Homo sapiens: one gene and its partners. The protein of the gene in region 1 purifies or fractionates together with the protein of each later gene. This does not show direct contact. Each region holds a gene or a part of one and is shown in the gene's direction. Other genes may lie near its edges.

What was found. The genes of interacting proteins can lie anywhere in the genome.
Region 2: the proteins of ZNF23 (region 1) and ARID2 purify together in Homo sapiens (affinity purification with mass spectrometry; one large-scale study listed by BioGRID and IntAct). This does not show direct contact.
Region 3: the proteins of ZNF23 (region 1) and GTF2IRD1 purify together in Homo sapiens (affinity purification with mass spectrometry; one large-scale study listed by BioGRID and IntAct). This does not show direct contact.

The regions. Positions count from the first base shown.
Region 1 is NC_000016.10:71,455,748-71,459,247, reverse strand, and holds part of ZNF23 (zinc finger protein 23), read left to right. Parts: intron 1-2,419; 5' UTR 2,420-2,451; coding exon 2,452-2,484; exon of another isoform or gene 2,485-2,554; intron 2,555-3,126; exon of another isoform or gene 3,127-3,155; coding exon of another isoform or gene 3,156-3,176; intron 3,177-3,500. UniProt on the Homo sapiens protein: May be involved in transcriptional regulation. May have a role in embryonic development.
Region 2 is NC_000012.12:45,732,706-45,736,205, forward strand, and holds part of ARID2 (AT-rich interactive domain-containing protein 2), read left to right. Parts: intron 1-3,500. UniProt on the Homo sapiens protein: Involved in transcriptional activation and repression of select genes by chromatin remodeling (alteration of DNA-nucleosome topology). Required for the stability of the SWI/SNF chromatin remodeling complex SWI/SNF-B (PBAF).
Region 3 is NC_000007.14:74,558,406-74,561,905, forward strand, and holds part of GTF2IRD1 (general transcription factor II-I repeat domain-containing protein 1), read left to right. Parts: intron 1-455; coding exon 456-639; intron 640-1,221; coding exon 1,222-1,250; intron 1,251-3,500. UniProt on the Homo sapiens protein: May be a transcription regulator involved in cell-cycle progression and skeletal muscle differentiation. May repress GTF2I transcriptional functions, by preventing its nuclear residency, or by inhibiting its transcriptional activation.

The DNA.
Region 1 (3,500 bases):
CCCACAGGTGTTAATGCCTCTGCACTTCAGGGCCCAGCAGGTGTCCACAGGTGTCCCACATAGGACACCAGAGAAGCCCCAGGGCAGGAACCAGGCATAGGTGATGTAGGTCCTTGTGAAGGTTCTGGTAGCTTGCAGCTTCACAAAGCTGACTAACCTCTGTAGAACTGGACTGAGGATGGGATAAGAGGATTGGAGTGGTGCTTACACTGCCCCTTACAGAGCTGAAGGAACAAACTAAGAGCAGAATTAGTGAATTTAAAACAAATAGAAGAAAGTAGTGTTGCTCAACTAGAAAAGCTGGTTCTTTGAAAATAAAAGGAAACCACATTAAAATAAGTAAAACACTGCTCAGCCTAACTGTATTAGTCTGCTTGGGCTGCCATAACAAAATACCATAGACTGGGTGGCTTCACCAACATACTTATTTCTCACAGTCCTGGAGACTGGAAGTCCAGGATCAAGGTGCCAGCTGATTTTGGCTCCTGCCAGGGTTGCCTTCCTGGCTTATAGATAGTAGCCCTCTCGTTGTGTCCTCACATGGGGGAGGCGGGGAGTGAGTGGTTTCGTGGGCTCTGGGTCTCTCCTTCTTCTTGTAAAGGCATCACCCCTATTGGACCTCATTTAACCTTAGGACCTTTAGTCCCACCCTTAGGACCTCATTTATCCTTGTAACCTCCTGACAGGCCCCGTCTCCATATACAGTCACATTGGAGGCTAGAGCTTCAACATATGAATTTGGCAGGGGCATAAATGTTTAGTCTCTAACTCTAACCCTGGGAAAAAGGTCTAGAAAGCACATATATTCAAAAGAAGAAGTGGGAAAAGCAAACTAGCTCTGGATATGGAGGAAATGGAAAGAATCATGAACCAGTATTTTCTGCAACTCTGTACTAGTAAAGTTGAAATCCTGGAAGAAATGGATGATATTTTAGGAAAATGTAATTTCAAGACTGACTTTAGGGGCAGTAAAAGTCAGAAAATCACTAGTCCATATGTTTTTGAATACAGTGAACAAGAGGCTCTGGGTCACGGGACTGGCTGCTACAGTGATCTCCTCTCTCAGGAGCTGACGCAGAAGTGTAGGCCTTGGCTCATTCACTATCAGAAGACTGGAAAGTTTGGGAAACAGCCTGGTTCCTAACTTCCAGCTCAGCTTCCTAAGGACAGCCTGTGCTGTCCTTAGGAGGACTGACCTCTCAAGACCTCTCCAGAGGTGTTAGGATTCTTGAGGACATTCAGAGCTCTGAGGAAGTGGGGCAGGATACTGGGGGGCAGCTGCCTTCTCCAGGCGCTGCCTCCCTGGGGTCTGACTCCCCAGGCTTGTGTACTGGGGCTGCAGCCCAGCCAGTCCAGCTTCTCCTGCTGTGATACTGAAGATAATGCTTGTGTTGAGAAAGAGAAATAAGTCAAAGATCTTGGTATTGTCCTATTTCTTGAAATGAATTGTGGATACATGACTCTTTGCTTTATTTTTTAGGCTCTGCATACATTTTATTTTATTTTTATTTTTTATTTTTTTGAGATAGCGTCTCACTCTCATCACCCAGGCTGGAGTGCAGTGGTGTGATACTGGCTCACTGCAGCCTTGACCTCCCGGGCTCAAGTGATCCTCCTACCTCAGACTCCCGAATAGCTGGGACCACAGGCATGTGTCACCACCTCTGGCTAATTTTTTTTTTTTTGAGACGGAGTCTTGCTCTGTTGCCCAGGCTGGAGTGCAGTGGCGCAATCTTGGCTCACTGCAAGCTCTGCCTCCCGGGTTCACACCATTCTCCTGCCTCTGCCACCCGAGTAGCTGGGACTACAGGCGCCCGCCAGCACGCCCGGCTAATTTTTATATTTTTAGTAGAGACGGGGTTTCACCGTGTTAGCCAGGATGGTCTTGATCTCCTGACCTTGTGATCCACCCGCCCTGGCCTCCCAAAGTGCTGGGATTACAGGCTTGAGCCACCGCGCCCAGCCTAATTTTTGTATTTTTTATAGAGACAGGGTTTTGCCATGTGTCCAGGCTGGTCTCGAACTCCTGAGCTCAAGTGATCCACCCGCCTTGGCCTCTCAAACTGTTGGGATTATAGGCACGAGCCACCGTGCCCAGCAGGTTTTATATGCACTCTTCTTCTTCTTTTTATTTTTAATTTTTATTTGTTTATTTTTAAATTTTATATATATACTCTTCAGTGTGTGTGATATGTATCAGAATTGTAAAGTCCTAGGGTTCCTGGCAGTGAATTTCAGTGTCATAGCCTGGAGTCCTAGGCACTGAGCCAGTGAACAGATCATTCCCTTCTTGGGCAGCTCCTGTTCGCACTCCTATTTGGATGCAAGCTGCCTGTGTCTTGCATTTTCTGTGAGGGGCTATGTTGCTCTGGTTGGGGTGGCTTGCCTCACACTTGTCTCTCTTTGTGTTTCTCCTTAGCTCCAGCCCTTCTCTGAGACGGGGACCAGGGGATGGCAGCCATGCACCTGACAGCCTGGCCCCAGGTGAGCTGTGGGGTCCTTCAGCTCTTCCTCTGGGCAGTTTCAGATTGAAAAACATTGAGAAGGGGAGCTGGTGAGCCTCGGGATGACAGCTGCTTCCACCTGCTGGACTGGAACTTGTGGGAAAGAGGTGTTGTGCAGGGAGGGCGGCAGAGACCAGGACAGTAGCGAGTGGAGGAAGCGGGAGAGTGAGCAGGAGAGCAGGAGGGTGGTGGTCTTCTGCACACTGAGGGTCTCTGCTCCTCTCTACAGGAGCACCCCCAGCATAGGGCTCTGGGTGAATGGGGACGTGGAAACCGCCCCTGTGGGATGTACTGTGCAGGGGTGTCAGTGGAGCACAGTCGCAGAGGATTGGACTATCTGTGGTGGGGATGTAGAGAAGAGGAATAGCAGGACCTGATCAGAGAAGGATGGCCGTGCCTCTAATTCAGGGGTAAGGGAAGGTCACAGGGAGTGGAGTCAAGGGAGGGGGAAGACAGTCACATGGGACGGAATGTCTCATTGTGCTTGTGAAGCTTTCAAAGTTTAGGATGCAGACTTTAGGTCTCTGAGAAGAGCTTTCCACCCTGTCCTGCAGGAAAGAGGTGTTGTGCGGGGAACCTGCAGAACATAAACCTGCAAACCAAATTTTCCATACATTTTCAGGGACTTCACGGATCCCCTGAAGCTCATCCATGGACTTCCATGGACTACAGGTTGGGAACAGTCCACAGTCACACCAGTTGTATCTTTGGAGGCTTACTATGCTCCAGGAGCCATACTAAGCCCTTTGTATGGTCGTTTGGTCCTGACAACCGCCTCTGTGATAAGTGCTGTGTTGTACTCTTTCCACCTAAAAAGAAAAGGCAAAAGGGGAGTAGAGTAACTTGCCCAGGATCACAGAGTTATTGTGTGATTCAGAACTGCTTAGCCATAAGACAGCTGTGGAACCAGTGATGTTAACTTGGTCAGATTTGTGATGTGTATGGAATAATTTGTAAGGAAGATTCAAAAGCACGGTGACCACTTCACAAAGAAGA
Region 2 (3,500 bases), on another chromosome or scaffold:
CATTTGAATTTTGGACTGTTTGAAATACATATTTTTGAAGTTTTGCTTCATATTTGTTAGATTGATTGACTTAAGTTTTATAACCAGAAAGTACTATAGAATATACATGATTCATGAGATGTATATTTTTCTGAAGAGTTTACATTCATACTAATAGTTTTAGCATAATCAAATTAATATCTAGGCTTCCAATTTTTTTTAACAAAAGTTAATTATAAATATTGTTTTTCCAGTTGTCATTTTTATCTTGGGAGGATATCATTAATTATAGGTACTGTTTTTAACTATATAGTTTCAACATTGTAAGTATTTACATGGTCTTCAGATCAAATTGGGCTTTTTGCTCTTATTAGAAGCTGCTTTTTGAACTATGTCCTTAGTTAAACTTGTTTTTCCTCCATATGTCACTCTCTAGGTTTGTTTTTGCAGGGTTGTAGCTAGGCTACTAGGAAAAAAGTTGAAGCATTTGTTTTGGAAAATAAAACCATGTGAAGATTTGCATGGCTTGTAAAGAAATACAAAAGAAATATGCTGGTCAAAACTTAGGTACTACCAACCTTGAAAGAATTTTTTCCTGGTGGTCTAATATTGCACAGTAAGAGGATATATATGATGCTAGCTTTTACACCTTCCTCTGAAAAATCTTAATTGGCAGACAAGATGCCAAGTAACAGCAATTCTATTACCTACCCATAAGATTGGCTCTTCATAGTAAGAAATAGTAATCGAGTGACTTGATAAGTTACCTCTTTGCTACGTCAGATTGAATATCATCATTACTGATGAGCAGATAATGCAGTGTGTTTTTTAAATTACAAGTGGAATAATTTTTTAATATGAACTGCTTTTTCATTTGACCTATTGTAAGACTGTCATTATATGTGTTATTCCTCCTTTACAAGTTTAATATTTGCTCACATTCCCCTGTAAGTTTGCTATTAATTGGATGGATGGCTGTTAGCCTAGTGTTTTATGATATATCTTCATAATATTACAGATAATTTAAATTAGGAAGAGCAAGCTAGTATGCTGGCCATGTATATTTTAATAGTGTTTTGTTATTTTTGATACAAATATTGACAGTCATTAAATATAGACTTGAGTATTAATGGTCTGCCAGACATTAACTTAATTTTCTCAAATATACATTTATTCAGTTATAGCTTGTCTACAAAAATTTCTTAGAGTCTAAAATTGAAAATGCAATTGATTATTTTAACATTGGCATTTAATTTTTACAAATATAAGTGCCTGCCTGTATCAAAGTTTCTCACCTACTCCAGAAATATATACACGTACTGTGTACCCACAAAAATTAAAAATTAAAAAAAAGTAAAGTGCTTACAGATAATGTGTAAAAGCAGTCTATTTAAAAATTGGAGGCCAGGTGCGGTGGCTCACGCCTGTAATCTCAGCACTTTGGGAGGCCGAGGCAGACGGATTACCTGAGGTCAGGAGTTTGAGACCAGCCTGGCCAACATGGTGAAACCCCGTGTCTACCAAAAATAGAAAAATTAGCCTGGCATGGTGGCTCATGCCTGTAATCCCAGCTACTTGGGAGGCTGATGCAGGAGAACTGCTTGAGCCCGGGAGTCGGAGGTTGCAGTGAGCGGAGATCGTGCTACTGCACTCTAGTCTGGCCGACAGAGTGAGACTCTTTCTCAAAAAAATAAAATAAAATAAAATAAATAAATTAAAAATTGGATACTAATCATCTGTGATGTTTATGCACTTTATTTTCATGTAGTTCCTTTTCTTGGCATGTACATCTCAATGTGTTCCACCAATGTTTATTATTAGGATATTCCTATAGTATGAAAGGATAAGGTATAGTTTCCCACATTTTGTAGATGGAGATATTAAAGTGCAAAAAAAAAAAAAATTAAATGGCTTAGGGAACATTTCATTAATTGGACCAAAATGTTGTGTTCATGACGTGTTCAATAATATTTGGAAATTACTTATGGTTAAATTTATGCCCAAGTATCTCTTTGCCTAATGTGTTCCATATTTACTTGGTGGATTTTAATTTTTTGTTCTGTTTTGTTGTTGAAATTGGGGGACAGTTTGCTGGTCTTATCTGGGTTAAGAATTTGAAGTTTTGGTATGAAGATTTAGGTAAATATTTCAAATATTTTAAAATTTTGTTTTTGCTTACTGATGCCAATATTACAGCTATAGTCAAGGTTAACTTGATGTTTCCTTTATAAAACTTGATTTTTTTGGAAAGGGGGTGAAATATCTTGGACATTAAAAATTTATTGTACAAAACTATATGTTACTAGTTTTCTGGCACTGAAATATTCATTTCTATTTATATGTACCTACCTTTAGAATAGTCAGAAACTTAATTGTAGAGTTATGTTTACCATAGTACATTTTCAATCGCATTGTGAATTTATTCTATTTTTTTTTTCTTGGTGGGTAAAGCTCTTTCTTAAATTACACCATTTGAGGGAGTTTACATTTGTTAGTTAAATTGAATGAATACACTCATGTGTTCTCTAGTTAGTGTCCACCATATAGATCAATTCTTTTAAGAGAAAGCCTTAGGTATATAAGCACTGAGTTTGTAAATTGCTAAACGGAACTGAATAAACTGATTGCCCTTCTTATTCAAGGAAGGAAAATAAAAGTATATGGAGATTGGAAGACAAATATATCAATAAGTTATTCATGCATGTATTTCAAATTTAACTTTATAAACTGTATCGTGTGTGTGTGTGTGTGTGTGTGTGTGTGTGTGTGTGTGTGTAGACAGGGGTCTTGCTTTGTTGCCCATGCTTGTCTTGAATGCCTGGCTTCAAGGTATCCTCCCGCCTCAGCCTTCCAAAGTGCTGGGATACAAAAGTGAGCCACTGTGCCTCAGCCTTCCAAAGTGCTCGGATACAAAAGTGAGCCACTGAGCCTGGCAGTGTATCCATTTTAAAAAACAAAAAACCTGATTTTGATATTTTCTGATATTCTGTTACGTTTTTAAAGGACATGCAGACTTGTTGAAAGGAAGAGCAGAAAGTGGAGAAAGTTGAAAGACTTATCAAAGCTCAGCTAGGTTAGTGTTATGTCTTAGAATCCATGTTTTTAGAGCTTAAATTGCCCAAAGTAGAAATAAATTGAGTTCTTTCTAAGACAGATAGTTTTCACTGAGGTTACAAATTTTCCTGAGGATACAAAATGAGAACATTATAATTCCCAAAAATGTTTATATGCTTTTTTTTTGCAGTTAAATTTTCTACCTTAGCTGTTAACTAAAAATGTCCCTGAATAGAAGCACTCTTTCATAATCCTATCTCTGCTTTGTTGTGGATTCAGTATTTTCATAGTTGATCGTGTGAAATCTATAACGTCTTTGATAGACAAGTATATTGTGGCCGGGCGTGGTGGCTCACGCCCTGTAATCCCAACACTTTGGGAGGCCAAGGCAGGCGAATCACAAGGTCAGGAGACCAAGACCAGTCTGGCTAACACAGTGAAACCCTGTCTCTACTAAAAATACAAAA
Region 3 (3,500 bases), on another chromosome or scaffold:
CTGGAGTACAGTGGCGTGATCATGGTTCACTACAGCCTCAAACTCCTGGGCTCAAGCAATCCTCCTGCCTCAGCCTCCCAAGTGGCTGGAACTACACCCCACTGGGCACTACCATGCCCAACTAGTTTTTAGAAATTTTTAGTAAAGACAGGGTCTTGCTGTGTTGCCCAGGCTGATCTCGAACTCTTAGACTTAAGAGATCCTCCTGCCTTGGTTCCCCAAAATGCTGGGATTACGGGCATAAGCCACCATGCTGGCCTTTTTTTTATGTTCTGATCAAACAGCTCAGATTGTAATGCCTATACCTTTCCACAGTGCTACACTACATAAGAGCTTTCTCGTACCATTCACTCTCCTGCACGCATGTCTTTCCATCACATCCCCGCAATCCCATGTACACACACCCCACGCTGCCTCTCACTCCTGACGGGCAGGACCCTGCCTCTCGCCCACAGGGGAAGCCTTGGGCATCAAGTACCCGGTCCAGGTCCCCTACAAGCGGATCAAGAGTAACCCCGGCTCCGTGATCATCGAGGGGCTGCCCCCAGGAATCCCGTTCCGAAAGCCCTGTACCTTCGGCTCCCAGAACCTGGAGAGGATTCTTGCTGTGGCTGACAAGATCAAGTTCACAGTCACCAGGTACTCAGTGGGAAGGGTGAGGGTGAAGAGGCAGGACTAGCTCAGATGGGAGCTTGCACCTGCGAATCCTTAGCCTTTCCCTAGGTCCTGCCCTCCCCCCTGGACAAGGTGGCTCTCCTGGCACCATCCTGGGTCCTGGGGGTGGTTGGAGAGGGACTGCAGGCCAGCCCAAGTGAAGGGAGCCCTTCAGAAGTGGGACTGGTCACCCCCCCATGGCAAGGGCAGCCTTTGAGGGCATCTTCAACCTGTTCAGCAACACCCGCTCACTGCACCCCCAGCCCCCGGGAAAGGTATTCAGCCCCCATCAGAGGGATTTGCCCAAGGTCCCGGGGCCAGCCAGGGCAAAGCCTGCACAAGGCCCAGGTCTGCGTCCTGCAGAGTGACACTGCCAATGCCAGCACCCTGCCACATTGTCTCAGTGTCCCGCACACACAGAGCCCCAGGGCAGCTTGTTAAAATGCAGATTCTGCTGCTGTAGGTCTGGGGTGCTCCCAGGGGAGACCGAGGCCACTGAATCCCAGGGGTGTCTTCCTCATCCCCCAGGCCCTCCCCATGACACCCCTGCCTCTGTTTCTCTTCTAGGCCTTTCCAAGGACTCATCCCAAAGCCTGGTAAGAGGCACTGGCTGTGGAGGGGGCACTGGGAATAGGGCCCGATCGTGGTGCTGGGGACTGGAGCTAAGCCTGCTGTGGGGCACAGGTTCTGGGGTCTGGGAACAGAAGCCAGGCCCCTGCCTTTCTTTTTTTTTTTTCTGAGGCAGAGTCCTTCTCTGTCACCCAGGCTGGAGTGCAGTGGCTTCATCTCGGTTCACTGCAACCTCCACCTCCTGGATTCAAGCAATTCTCCTGCCTCAGACTCCTGAGTAGCTGGGATTACAGGCAATTGTCACCATACCTGGCTATTTTTTGTATTTTTGGTAGAGACGGGGTTTCACCATGTTGGCCAGGGCTGGTCTCAAACTCCTGACCTCAAGTGATCCACCCACCTCGGCCTCCCAAAGCGTTGGGATTACAGGCGTGAGCCACTGCGCCCGGCCTAGGCCTCTGCCCTTCTGTTTAGCCACCTTACCTGGGCTCCTGCCCCAGGTAGATGGAGGAAGACTAAGCTTGAATGTGGCCCCAGATCCTGGGACAGAGAAAGGGGTGGTGGCGTCAGTGACTTCTAAGTTTTACCCAGTCTGGGTTCAGGAGGGAGGGGCCAGGCCGAGTCAGTGCACCTGCTCCTCCTGATAAAGGGGCTCTGGTTGACCTCAGTGAATAGGCGAGGTTGGAGGTGAGTGGGTTCCTAACCGCAGAAGGAGGGGTGTCTGCATGGGGACCACAAGCATGTTGGTAAGATGTGGGTGGCGCCTACCCTGCCTTAAACAGTGCAGTGCCTCTCCTGACCCTTTTTAAAAAAATATTTTATATATATAATAAAATATATACATAATAAAAAATATATATAATAAAAATATTATATATAATTAAAAATATTTATATAATTAAAATATTATATATAATTAAAAATATTATATATATAATAAAAAATATTATATAGAGAGAGAGAGAGACAGAGACAGACCAAGTCTCACTTTGTTGCCCAGGCTGGAATGCAATGGCACTATCTCTGCTCACTGCAAACTCCACCTCCCAGGTTCAAGCTATTCTGCCTCAGCCTACCAAGTAGCTGGGATTATAGGTGGGCACCACCATGCCCGGCTAATTTTTGTGTTTTTAGTAGAGCTGGGTTTCACCATATTGGCTAGGCTGGTCTCAAACTCCTGGCCTCAAGTGATCCTCCTGCCTCAGCCTCCCAAAGTGCTGGGATTACAGGCATGAGCCACCACACCCGACCTCCTGACCCTTTTTAAGGCACCCATCCACTTCTGTCTCCACCATGGACTGTGTCCTGGCCTCCCAAACCCAGATTTGCAGGGGCTGTCCCTGCAGGGTGATCCCAAACCCAGATTTGCAGGGGCTGTCCCTGCGGGGCGACATGCCACTTGGCAAGCACTAAGGGCTGGCCAGAGCCTCCAGGGCGGGCCAGGCACGGTGGCTCACACCTGTAATCCCAGCACTTTGGGAAGCCAAGGCAGGAGGATCACTTGAGGTCAGGAGTTCGAGATCAGCCTGACCAACATGGTGAAACCCCATGTCTATTTAAAATCCCAAAATTAGCCAGGTGTGGTGGCGCACACCTGTAATCCCAGCTACTTGGGAGGCTGAGGCAGGAGAATCACTTGAACCCGGGAGGCAGAGGTTGCAGTGAGCCGAGATCGCGCGACTGCACTCCACCTTGGGCGACGGGACTAGATTGTCTCAAAAAAAAAAAAAAAAAAAGAACTTAGGGTACAGTGATGTGGCGGCTGCTGACAGGCCACGGGAACCCCCAGAAGGGGGATCAGGAGGGTGAGGGGTAGTTGGAGAGGGTTTCCTGGAGTAAGGATGGCCCTGCTTGGGCCTCAGGGGAAGATGGGACTTTGAGAGGCAGAGAGGAGGGTGGGTTTGGCGGGGTGAACGGCAGGGGTTGGGGGGTCACTGGATGCCAGAAGTGTGTTTCCGGAGCTCTCGGAGGGGCAGAGTGGTCAGATGATGTTGGAAAGGTGGAGAGAGTGGAAGCTGCAGCAGCACAGTGCAGTGAGTGTGGCTCCAGTGGACACCCGGCTGAGAGGTCACTGGGTTTCTGGCCCTGCACTGGTGCTTTATGCGGGTGCCTTTCACACATATTTTGGGAGGTCCTGCTGGGACAAGGTGGTATTCTAGAGGAACTAGGGTTACAGCAGAGTGCAGACAGAGGAGGCATCTCATTTAGTCTTCATAGCTAGGAGGTTGACGCTAGAGCCCACCTTACAGAGGGGGAGACTGAGGCTCGGTGTGAGT